Regions from separate parts of the Homo sapiens genome. Here region 1 is linked to region 2. The links come from fine-mapping of genetic effects on plasma protein levels. Region 2 holds a variant in brackets. A gene starts in the other region. All regions are shown on their forward strands. Region 1 holds the start of VWC2 (von Willebrand factor C domain containing 2). Region 2 holds the start of MUSTN1 (musculoskeletal, embryonic nuclear protein 1).

The links. PIP is the chance, under the fine-mapping model, that this variant and not a neighbour inherited with it causes the effect. The UK Biobank Pharma Proteomics Project read protein levels with antibody pairs (Olink). The fine-mapping took linkage between variants from a reference panel, not from the people measured, so its PIPs are less certain.
Region 1: VWC2 starts here. The variant in region 2 is fine-mapped to the plasma level of the VWC2 protein (UK Biobank, PIP above 0.99).

Annotation. Positions count from the first base shown.
Region 1 is chr7:49,771,985-49,774,881 of GRCh38, forward strand. VWC2 (von Willebrand factor C domain containing 2) reads left to right here and starts at 1,654. Exons shown (of 4, transcript NM_198570.5): 1 at 1,654-2,129.
Region 2 is chr3:52,834,649-52,837,545 of GRCh38, forward strand. All of the region lies in intron 8 of STIMATE-MUSTN1 (STIMATE-MUSTN1 readthrough), which reads right to left. It overlaps MUSTN1 (musculoskeletal, embryonic nuclear protein 1), which reads right to left and starts at 371. Exons shown (of 3, transcript NM_205853.4): 1 at 292-371. The coding sequence starts at 300. STIMATE (STIM activating enhancer) reads right to left here. Exons shown (of 8, transcript NM_198563.5): 8 at 2,085-2,897. RefSeq lists an enhancer at 2,802-2,897. The variant T/C (reference allele first, on the strand shown) is at 1,660.

The DNA of each region.
Region 1 (2,897 bases), not on the chromosome of region 2:
TTGAGAGGCCGGGTGGATCATTTGAGGCCAGGAGTTCAAGACAAGCCTGGGCAACAAAGCAAGATCCCATCTCTACCAAAAAAAAAAAACAAAAAAAAAACAAAAGAAAAAACCTAAACGAAACAAAACAAAACAAACAAACAAAAAATTAGCCCTGTGTGGTGACCTGTACACCCAGCTCCTCCGGAGTCTGAGGCAGGAGTTTGAGGCTGCAGTGGGCCGTGATCATGCCACTGCACTGAAGCCTGGGTGACAAAGTGAGATCGTGTCTCTAAAACATTAAAAAAAAAAAAAAAAGGAAAAATGAGAGTGAGAACTGAAACAGCAGAAGGGCTCAAATCATCCTGTACATAGAAATCCTCCATCCAGGCCAGGCGCGGTGGCTCACCAGCATTTTGGGAGACCGAGGCAGGAGGATCACGAGGTCCGGAGATCGAGACCATCATGTCCAACATGGTGAAACCCCGTCTCACTAAAAATACAAAAACAAAATTAGCTGGGGGTGATGGCGGACGACTGTAGTCCCAGCTACTCAGGAGGCTGAGGCGGCAGAAAGGCATGAACCCGGGAATCGAGCTTGCAGTAAGTGGAGATCGCGCCACTGCGCTCCAGGCTAGGCCACAGAGCGAGACTCCGTCTGAAAAAAAAAAAAAAGAGAGAGAGAGAGAGAAAGAAATCCTCCATCCAGCCCTGTTGGTTGTGTATGTGTTGGAGGGGGTGGAGGGGCAGCCTTCTCAGGCTTTCAAGGAGGGCTCCCTAGCACCTCAGCTAAGATTTGTTTGTCTATACTATTAAAAGATAGACATAACTGTGTCCCAAACCAGCCTCCCCAGTTCCCACCAGCCAGAGCGCCTGACCTTGCAGGGAAGCTTATCTGTTTACCGTCCGAGCACTTTCAGGGATTCTAAAATGCCGTGAGTGGGAACCACTGCCATGGGCCATTTCCATGAAAATTCAATTTCGGGGATTAATTTGAACAGGTACTATTGACGTTTTCTCGTTTACACAAGATCAAAGAGTAAAAACAACCGGGCCTCTGCTTAACAGTTGAGGATTCTAGCAAAGTTAGGAAACAGGTTTCTATTTGTAGTAGAAGAGAGAGCAGGCAGAAAGAGGAAGATGGGAGCGGGGAGAGATTGGCAGAGATTCAGAAAGTTCGCGCTTGAGATTTTTACGTTTCTTACTCGTAAACGTCTATTTCTCTGGGTTTCTGAATGCAAAGACGAGAAAGTCTCAACAGTCTGCTAAACTAACACGGCCTTCGAATCCCAATCTGAACACAGTAGCTGAAACAAGCTGTCCACAAAGAGGAAAGCCAGAGGGGGCCAATTAGGAAGGAAGAAATTAAAGAAAAGAGAAAAGCCAAGATGAAAGGTCCAGCGCAAAGTGAATGACTCGACTGGAGAATGGCAGCCCTGGCAGGGTCTGCGGCCGGCTGCGGAGGTGGGGACGCGGCCGCGCGGACGAGTGACAGGTTGGTCCGGCGCAGCAAAGGGAGCGGGTGCGGCGGTAGGGCCTCTCCGGGGGCAGCGCGAGGGCCTCCCCCGGGGCAGCGCGGGCCAAGGCGGGGCCTCCAGAGCGGGGGCAGCAGAGGAGGGAGCGGAACGGGAGCCGGGCGGAGGCGGCTGCGGCAGGGGGAGGCGGGAGGCGGGCGCGCTAGCTCCCATGCTGGCCTCGGTGCCACTCGCGCGCCGGCCGCGCTCCGGGCTTCTCTTTTCCCTCCGACGCGCCACGGCTGCCCAGACATTCCGGCTGCCGGGTCTGGAGAGCTCCCCGAACCCCTCCGCGGAGAGGAGCGAGGCGGCGCCAGGGTGGCCCCCGGGGCGCGCTTGGTCTCGGAGAAGCGGGGACGAGGCCGGAGGATGAGCGACTGAGGGCGACGCGGGCACTGACGCGAGTTGGGGCCGCGACTACCGGCAGCTGACAGCGCGATGAGCGACTCCCCAGAGACGCCCTAGCCCGGTGTGCGCGCCAGGCGGAGCGCGCAGGTGGGGCTGGGCTGTTAGTGGTCCGCCCCACGCGGGTCGCCGGCCGGCCCAGGATGGGCGCTGGCAACCCGGGCCCGCGCCCGCCGCTGCTACCCCTGCGCCCGCTGCGAGCCCGGCGTCCGGCCCGCGCCCTGCGCTCATGTATGTAGGTTTGGCGCCGGTCTTCAGGGCTGAGGGTGCATGCTGGGTGTCCCCGCGCGGCCGGACGCGCTCCAGCTGGGTTCAGCCGCTCAGCTGCTCCGGAGGAACCCCCTCCCCCGCCCAAGTTTGTGAATATGGGCGCTTCGCCCAGTGTTGAGGTCGGCAGGGACCGGGCAGGGGGTCAGCAGGGCCGGGCACGTCCGGAGCCCTCAGGGAGGAGGGCTGAGGGGGAGGGGACAGACGCACCGGAGTGCGCAGAGTGGGGGCGTTCGGGGAGTGAGGCGGAGAGAGGCTGGATTGCCGGTGTCCTGCGGCGTCTCGGGCTCTCCCAGCCCCTTTGGGCGGCAGAAACTTTGGAATCCAGAAAGGCTGGCCGGGATCCAGCGAGTAGGAGGGTCTCGCGCCCACTCTGCGCCCTGGGGCCCCAGCCTCCCGCACTGCACACCTTGGTGCTGCCCGGGCGCTTCTGCTCCGCAGCCAGGACACTACAAGACTGAGCGCTGCGGCCGGCGACCTGGCTCCCAAGGCTCGGAGGGGCGGGCCGGCAGAGGAGCTGAAGCCCCGGGAATCCCCGACCCGGCCCTCTGGCAAGGGGCCGAGGGCATCCTTTCATGCAGCGGGGCTTAGAGAGCGGGGAGGGGGCGTCTGCTCCCGAGACGGGAGTCTTTTAAGAAGTTGTTAGAAATGAATCGTGGAGTCCTAGGAGAAGCTTTGTTTAACCTCCCCGCATTTTCCCAGCACAACCCCCTAAAGCAAATGAGGAAGAGT
Region 2 (2,897 bases):
GATGCGCACACACACACACACACACACAGGCACATGCAAAGATCTATCTAGGCCCCCCCCACCCCCAACATTTCTCTCCACTCCTCCTAACAAACCGTGGAATACCACCAAAGCCACATAGAAGAGGGGTTCTTCAGGGGGTCCTCCCTGAGCCCCCATCTCCCAAGGGCTGCAGAGCCTCCAGTTCATGCTTGGGGCTCAGATCAAGACACAGCTGCCAGAGCCGAAAGTGTCCAGGACTCCACCTCCACTCCCTCTGGCATCAACACAGCCCTTGCTGGGTCCTCCTACCTGGGACATGGTGGGTATTGTGTAAGCGCTGGGTCTCTGAAGGCGCCTCTCTGGCAGGCAGCAGCTGCTGGAAAAGATCTGAGTGGAGCCCAGCCTTCTGAAACTTATATAGCCTGCTTGCTTGTCCCGCAGAGTCACTGCCCCTCCTCTGACAGGCTCCCTGATGATTCAGGTCCGCAGGGTCGCTGGCTTCAGAGTTTATTCTCGGAGATGAGAGGGGCTCCCAGTACTGCTGCCTGGGGGCTGCAGCCCTGATGAAAGCAGATGGCTGCAGAGACCCTTTGCCCTCTGGGACAGCTGCTTGATTCGCCGGGGGGAGGTGCTGGCACTGACGGACATGCTTTGTGTTTACGGATTTGGGTCCTGGAATGTGTGACCATCTGAATTGTTCCTCTGCAAGGGTTCATCCCAGTGTGTGGGGTGGGTGTGGGGTGTCCCTGAGGGAATGGAGGGCCCTAGCTGGGTTGGACTGCTCCAAGCTTGTTTTTCTTCCTCTTCCATCCCTTCCCCTGGATTCCAGTGGACAGATTTTCCATCCCTGCATGGTGGCAGAGCAGGAGCTTCCCGTGTCTGCTGCGTCTGATTATGGCAAGCTCACTGGGCCCTTGCAGCAAACTCAGAGAGGGGCTACCACAGGTTCACAGGTGGAGAAAGTGAGGTAAAGGGAGCCTGGGGAGTTGCTCATGTTTTTGCTGATGTCCTTGTCCTCTATCCTATTCCAACTGCAAGTTCAGAGAGGGGGGAGTAAGGGGTCTGGAAAGGACCAGGGAGGAAACCATGCTCGATGGTGACAGCACTGATGAGACAGAGGTGTGAAACAGGCTCAGGCTCAGGCCTGAGCCTACTCACCTCCGAGTAGGTGAGGCCACCGCAGGGGGGCTGGCCTGCAGGACAGTTTCAGTTGCTCAAAGAGGGTGGGGGAGAGTGAAGCCCACTCCAGATACTGAGCTGCAGAGACAAGAACAGGCCCAAGGGCTCCCCGGAAGGTCACTTAGCTCTCCTTTGCTAGAAGCTCCTAACACACCCCTCCTTGCAAGGGGAAGATCCCCCAGGGCACAGGCCAGGAGCCTACGCCTGGGGTGGGTATGGGGAATAGGTGTGCATAGGTCGCAGCCCTCCCAGTAACACACATATCTAAGTCCTTTTCAGTTTATGATGGAGATTATTTTTATCCTCGAAGGCTCCAGGCAGATGGAACTCAACCAGGCACTGACATTTGGTTATCCCAAATGCCACTCCATTGCTGTCATACTTTGAACCCCACCCCAATCCCCCTCCTGACACCCTGGCTCCAGGAGGCCAATGAGAGGACTGCCAGGCTTGATCTGAGACAAGTGCTGACATGAGGAATGCCCAGGATGTGGCACA[T/C]GGGCCAAGAGGCAGCTGAGGGCAGGCCAGGCCTTGTGGGGGCCTTCCACTAGTTCCAGGGGTGCCCCTGCAGATGGCACCTGATGCTGCGGCTCTGCCCAGGGACCTCCTTCCAGCCCCGCAGCCTCAGGGACAAGGATGTGGGCTACTCACTGCTTATACTCTACCTCCCCAACACGATGTCCTCCTCAGAGACGGACTTGCTTTAATTCTCACTAGCGAAGAAGTGGAGATGGACATGGCAAGAGCATGTTTGGCTTTTCACTGGGCAGTTGCTGGCTCCCACTCCTGCCATGAGGCTTCGTAAGGTTCCTTCTCACTCTGGTCCCTGGGGAGAACCTTCTAATTCACAGGGGAATCTTTTTTGACCCTGCCAAGCTGTTTCAACTCCAGAGAACCCACAACCACAACCACAAATGTGATGGTTTCTTTTTAAAAAAAACTGTAATAAGATGCCAAACTTTATTGTAAACCATTTTACAATGTAAGTACATCATCTTCTCTTTCATTTCAAAAAAACGTTTCCATGAATCCTACCACCACCGATTAAGCACCCCCACTGGATGGCTGCTGAAGTGGGCCATGGTTTTCCTTGCATAGGTCTGACTTCTAACAAACTTCAGGAAAAGAAAAATCAAATTTAAAACAACCCAACCAACCAACCACCAACCAACCCAGGAGCTCAAGGTGCTTGTGGCAAGTCAGACCATAAGTCCCTTACCAAAAGCCAAGCCCCTCAGAGCTGCTAATGTTTCACGAAGTAAAACAGAGAGCTCTGCACTCTTAGCTGCAAGCGTGTGAAACTTCTAAAAGCCAGCCCCACATTCTACAAGGCAGCTGCTCTGGCCAGTGGGAAGCTCCTTGCACTGCCTATCTTAGCCTGGCTGCGAAAAGGCCAGTGAACTGCAAGGGCAGAGTGAGCTGCCAGCTGGGCGCTGCTCCCTCCAGGGTTCTGAGGCAGCCTTTGGACATAAACTTGGGGCTGCACCCTACAGGCTTACACTGTCTAAGGGAAGTCACAGCTTGGATTTGAGCCTTTTAATATTTTCCCTGAAGAAAGAGGCATGACAGGTGACATTAACCCATGACTCCCTGTTGCCAGGGAGGGCACAAGTTAAAGCTTGAGGAAGGAGGCCACCAGCACGGCTGAGGGGCCACAGACCCTCCTCTTGCATGTGTGCAAGCTGAGTGGACCAAGAAGCCACCACCACCTGGATCTCACTAACATCCCCCCTTGC